2 separate regions of the Homo sapiens genome follow, and region 2 is linked to region 1. Evidence: fine-mapped expression QTL. A gene starts in region 1. The other region holds a variant in brackets. All regions are shown on one strand. Distances are between the middles of the regions. Region 1 holds the start of DCAKD (dephospho-CoA kinase domain containing). Region 2 overlaps NMT1 (N-myristoyltransferase 1).

The links. PIP is the estimated chance that this variant, and not a neighbour inherited with it, causes the effect. A credible set is the group of variants that fine-mapping cannot tell apart.
Region 2: its variant is the best candidate, but not a certain one, in a credible set for the expression of DCAKD in lung (TOPMed, PIP 0.58).

Annotation. Positions count from the first base shown.
Region 1 is chr17:45,050,056-45,052,956 of GRCh38, reverse strand. DCAKD (dephospho-CoA kinase domain containing) reads left to right here and starts at 1,325. Exons shown (of 5, transcript NM_001288655.2): 1 at 1,325-1,596. RefSeq lists a silencer at 1,185-1,684.
Region 2 is chr17:45,102,971-45,105,871 of GRCh38, reverse strand. It overlaps NMT1 (N-myristoyltransferase 1), which reads right to left. Exons shown (of 12, transcript NM_021079.5): 9 at 2,751-2,901; 10 at 1,996-2,163; 11 at 876-1,013; 12 at 1-253. The coding sequence ends at 233. Among named protein-coding and RNA genes, the nearest start is that of MIR6784, 10 kb to the left of the region's middle. RefSeq lists an enhancer at 1,846-2,346. The variant CTA/A (reference allele first, on the strand shown) is at 1,301.

The DNA.
Region 1 (2,901 bases):
CCTGACCTCAGGTGATCCACCCGCCTTGGCCTCCCAAAGTGCTGGGATTACAGGCGTGAGCCACAGCGCCCGGCCTAGATGCTTTATTTTTTTTGAGGCAAGGTCTCGTTTTGTTGCCCAGGCTGGAGTGCAGTGGTACCATCATGGCTCTCTGCAGCCTTGACCTCCTGGGCTCAAGCCATCCTCCTGCCTCAGCCTCCCGAGTAAATGAGACCACACTGTCACCATGCCTGGCTAGTTTGTTTTTTGTTTTTTTTTTTTGTAGAGATCGGGGGTTAGTCTCACTCTTGTTTAGGCTGGTCTCGAACTCCTGGGCTCAAGTGATCCTCCCAAAGTGCTGAGATTACAGGTGTGAGCCACCGTGCCCGGCTTTTATGTATTCTTTCAACAACGCTGCACGGCTGCGATTATCCCCACTTTGAGAGGAGACAGGATGAGAGGCTGAGTGGCTTGCTAGGCTTGTATGGACAGGATGCGGGCTCTGCAATCACATGACTTTGTATGAGAGGGCAAATGGATTAACCGCTAAACATAGTTTCCTGTTGTGTAAAATGGGGATGATGATAGTATCCACCCTGCGGACTGTGCGGGCTGAGATAATCCCACAAAGTGCTCTTAGGACCTGGCAGGTGGAAAGTGCTCATGATCACCTCTGCCAAGGCTGCACAAGTAGCGAGTGGCCGAGCTTTATATCCGAAGTTAGGACCCTGCAGTTTTGCCCCTCTCCTCTCTCTCCCTCTCCTTCCCGGCTCCGGGGAAAGGAAAATTTATGGCTCCGGGTCGGGGGTTGCGGGGGACCTCTGTGCCGTGCTCCGGGGCCGAGCTCTCCCCGCCGGCCTCTCCCGCGTCCGTCCGGCCGCCCTCCCGCCCAACCTCTCCCGCCCAACCTCTCCCGCGTCCGCCCGCCCGCCCAACCTCTCCCGCGTCCGCCCGCCCGCCCAACCTCTCCCGCGTCCGCCCGCCCGCCCAACCTCTCCCGCGTCCGCCCGCCCGCCCAACCTCTCCCGCGTCCGCCCGCCCGCCCAACCTCTCCCGCGTCCGCCCGCCCGCCCAACCTCTCCCGCGTCCGCCCGCCCGCCCAACCTCTCCCGGCCCCGCCCGCCCGCCCGCCCAACCTCTCCCGGCCCCGCCCGCCCGCCCGCCCAACCTCTCCCGGCCCCGCCCGCCCGCCCGCCCAACCTCTCCCGGCCCCGCCCGCCCGCCCGCCCAACCTCTCCCGGCCCCGCCCGCCCACCCAACCTCTCCCGGCCCCGCCCGTCCAACCTCTCCCGGCCCCGCCTGCTGGCCGGACGTCCGGTCTGCAGGCGCGCGCTCCCGAGGTCCCGCCTCGCCCGCTGAGCCGGCCTGTAAGCGCTGCGGAGATTGGGCTAGAGGCGGAGGCCTGGGCCACGGCGGAGGCGCTGGGTACGTAGCGCGCCACGCGGGCCGGTGAGAGCCAGCCGGGCGCCGGGGAGGGGGCGGGCCCTGGCCGCGGCTGCTACGCGGGGCTGCCACCGCCCCGGGCGACCCAATTTCGCGGCCTAGTGGGGCGTACGGGCCTCTTTTGAAAGCCTGAGTTACGATGTATTGAGCGCGTCGTATGCGGCCAGCACTAAGGCAAGTGCTTTTATATCCACGGCCCATTGTCTTGACAGCAACCCTACCAAGCAACGTGTTATTTCCTCTGTTTTACGGCTGAGGACGCGCAGGAAGGTTTACAGCTAGAAAGGGCTGGAGATTGTGGATTCAAACTCAGGATCAGACCAAAGCCACTGCCCTTTAGAACTTTGCGGGCCGATTGATTCTTGAATCTAGCTTCTGCCACTTCAGTTGTGTGACCTTGGGGTATCTTTCCGATCCCAAGTTTGCTCATCTGAAAAATGGGAATAAAGCTACAGTATCTGTCCCATAGGGTGGGTATAAAGTGCTTTACTGTTGAGCTGAGTGATCATCTCCGATTTTCAGACCCCTCTCCTCCGCTTCCCTCTCCCCTGGGAGGCCAGTTAAGGTTTTAGTGAAGGCCCCCGGGACTGGGGCGGCGTGGATCTCACGCCCACCAACTAGTGAGGGAGGCCATCCGGCCACCCGTCTCTTCCTTCCCCAGCTCCGCAAAGGAGGCGTTGGCATTTCAGGTGTTTGCTTACAGAGTTTTCAAAGATTTTTCACTCTCCCTTAGTTGTGGGAAAATGATTCAACCTACCCAAGTGAACTTTGACATTAAGTCTCAATTCTAACGGTGAGGAAATGGAAGCCTTTGAATATGTTTTATGTCTTAAACGTGTTTGTTTTTGCAGGAGGGAGAGTGCTCATTTTACCTGAATAAATCAAGATTGAGTTGGTGTGGCACAGTGCTGGCATAGGCCTGGGGAAAGGGGTGAAATGCTAGAGATCTGGTAGATGGATAGAAAGTGGACAGACGGGTTCGGGTGGTTTTTGTCTCAGCAGGGCCCTAAATTCCCACCAAATCCTCCTCTGTCTGTCTTCACCAAGGTCTGAATCTGTCCCCTTGGTAAATAACGTTTAAATGGTCTCCGAGCCCCTCTTGGTGCCTGTACCTTAAGGAGAGAAGAAGAGGGCTGATAGCTGAAGGCAGGCAAGCCACGAACTTAGCTTTGTTTTGAAAATTACCCTCTGGGCCGGGCACGGTGGCTCACGCCTGTAATCCCAGCGCTTTGGTAGGTTGAGGAGGGTGGATCACCCGAGGTTAGGAGTTCGAGACCAGCCTGGTCAACATGGTGAAACCCCCGTGTCAACTAAAAATGCAAAAAAATTAGCCGGACATGGTGGTGCATGCCTGTAGTCCCAGCTACTCGGGAGGCTGAGGCAGAAAAATCGCTTGAACCCGGGAGGCTGAGGTTGCAGTGAGCCGAGATCGTGCCACTGCACTCCAGCCTGGGCAAGAGAGTGAGACTCCTTCTCAAA
Region 2 (2,901 bases), 53 kb before region 1:
ATGTAATTAACTGGAAAACACGGAGACCAGAGACACGACCGGAGGTGACGTCACGCAGCCCACGCCATCGCAATACAATTGTCAAGTTCGCTGGCGGTTTGGTAAAGCCGGTTCAGTTCTGCTCCCTTTGCCAGGGATTCTCACGTGTGTGAAAATTGGACCAACAGTGGTGGGGTTCCATTTCCTGGTTCGAATTTTCAGTGGCTTTATCCAGAATCGCACTGGTGACTGGTTATTGTAGCACCAGTCCAACCTAGGAAAGCCAACAGGGAGAGGCAGAGCTGAGTTGACAGTGGCCCAAAGACTCTCCCACACCCCCTATCCCTGAAGTTCCGAGTGGCTGGGCCCGGGTCCACCGCCTGTGCTGTGGGAGCAGACTCACACCCAGCCGGCCCCACACTCAACCTCCACACCAGGGTTCACACGTCCATCAGACCTCCCAGGGAAAACTGGCCCACGCTCCAGCTCACCCCTATGTCCCCTGTGGCACTGGGGGAGGAAGGGCTAAGAAAGTGTCATGCCAGAAGAGGGCAGCAGCTCAGGAGAGGAAACCTCCTCAGAGTTCCCCCAGCCCTACCCTCCTGGCAAACCGTGGGCAACTCAACTTCCACGGTTCCCTCACGTGGGAAGGCCTCATTGGAGATGATCTTCGTGCTACTGTGTGGCTCTGTCCCCTCTGCCATCCTCACACCAGTTGCTGAGAGGGGAACGCTGACCTGCTGGTCTGGCCAGCAGAGGGAGGGCATTTTCAAAGGTTCAACTCGAGGTAACAAGGACCCAGACTGCGGCTGTCTCCTCAACCCATGGCCCGGTTTCTGCTGGAGACATGGACACCCTGGGCCGGGCAGCCTGGACTCTGGCTATGTGTCGCCTACCTTCTCTGCCCCCATGCTGGGGCATTTCCAATTGTAAAGGTAATACTGCAGGTTGCCGTCCCCTATGCCAAACTTGAGCTTCTCCAGGAAGGTTTTGTTCTCCATGAGATCCAGTGCATTGAACACATCAAACCCTTTCTGCAAAGCAGCAGGGACAAACAAGAACAGGTGAGGACAGGTGGGGACAGCCTCCTTCCTACCCCTTTGCTGCCATTTCAAAGCTGTCCTGTGGGCAGCCACAAGAACAAGGTTCCCTCAGAAGCTCCGCTGCTTCCACGTTAATCCCCGCTCTCCGGGTGGTTCTCAGGACACTCTGAGCGCCCCCTCCAGCCTGGCCTCTGCCCAGTGTCCCTCAGAGTGTACACATATGTACTCAGTGTCCAGGCCGGGGCTCTTGCTATTCCTGGTTATGCCTCCCTGAAACT[CTA/A]GTAATTTCCACAGTCCTCTCTGGAGTCCAAACCCTGAGCCCATTCCTCTGAGAAGCTGGCTCTGGTCAGCTACATGGGGTTTGTGTTGCTTCCTTACTCCATGGATGCCCCAACTCTCAGGCCCTCAGTGCACCTCATGTTGTATGACACCTGCTGTGTTGCTTGGAGACTGTGAAGATGCTTCCTAAACCTCACCAACTGGAGCAGAAGCTCTCACAGGGCAGGGACCAGATTGCCTACAGCAGGCTGGGCTGGGCTGGGCACAGGTTACCAGAACCCACAGCAAAGCACTGACAGACGGGCTCGCCATCCGCTACTGGCAGTTGGATGCTCCAATGACTCACCACGACAGACAGCAATCACCCCTTTCCCACGCTGGGAAAGCTGTGAGGAGAAGCCCTGTCCTCCCAGGGAAGGCCTGGCTATTCAGGCTCCTTGGTGGCGCCTCCTGTGAGAACGAAACTCACTGAAATGAATCAGGAGGAGTTCAATGCCTTCACTTCGGATGCTCCTTGTTCCCTCCAAGTTTTGAGTTTCTGCCTAAAAACTGCGGGAACCCTGCCTAAGCAGAACAGATGAGGAGGGCTCAGAGCCTCCAGCCCATGGGAGGCTGCGTCCCGGGAGCTGTGCTCACCATGGCTCCACTGCCTCTTCCCTGCACATCTCCAGAGACCCCCCCGTCTGCTCCTCACCATTTTGGCGAGGACAAGGGCGTCGCTCATGAGGTCTAGAAGAGGGGTCTGGGTGTGAACGTTGTAGAAAGAATAAGCAGCTTTGAGACTCTTGTGGGTTGGATGGTTCATGATGGTGGAGGGCAGCGTATAAAAGCTCAGGAAATCTGTCACCTCTCCGTTTGCGTTCTGAAGGGAAGGCAATAAAGAGGCAATGTCAAGCATGCACAGTGGCACTGCGGCCCGGGAACAAAATGTTTCTCTCACTCCACCTTCAGGCAGCTCTGCCCCTCTAGATAAATGGCTGGAAACTGCAACAGGACATGTGGGGAGGAGGAGGGACATTGGCTCAGGGCACTTGAGGACAGAGCCGTGATCGTGGGCTGAACCTGCCAGACCTCTTTCCCAGCATGGGCACCGCCAGGGACCTCTTCTTGCAGCTCACATCCCCCCAGACTGTGTCTCCTATGTCTGGTCAGCACTGGGTTAAGCTGGGACAGGCAGGGAATTGCAGGCTTTCCTGAAGGATTAAGCGGGGCTCAGTTCTCTCTATTTTGTGTTATCAAAGTGGGGCAGAGGGGGAGAAGGGCTCAAGCCAGATCCAGAGGTATCTTTTCAGCAAATTCAAGCACCAACTCCCTGTTTTTAGGGAGGACCAAACACGGATGGTCAAGGAAGTCTAAGGTGCCAACACTCGAGCCCTGGGAACCCGGCCACTCAGGGGGGTGCCTCTCTGGGAACGTGTTAGAGACCTGGAACACCACTCCCTGACTCACCTCCACCACGAAAGTGTCGATGATATTCTCCTGGGGGTAGAACCAGTGCTCCACCTCCTCCTGGCTCATGACGGGCGTAAGGTGAAATTGCTTCAAGTACCTGGTGAGGAGCTGGTGCACTACTGGAATGTCCTTTGTTTCCATTGGTCGC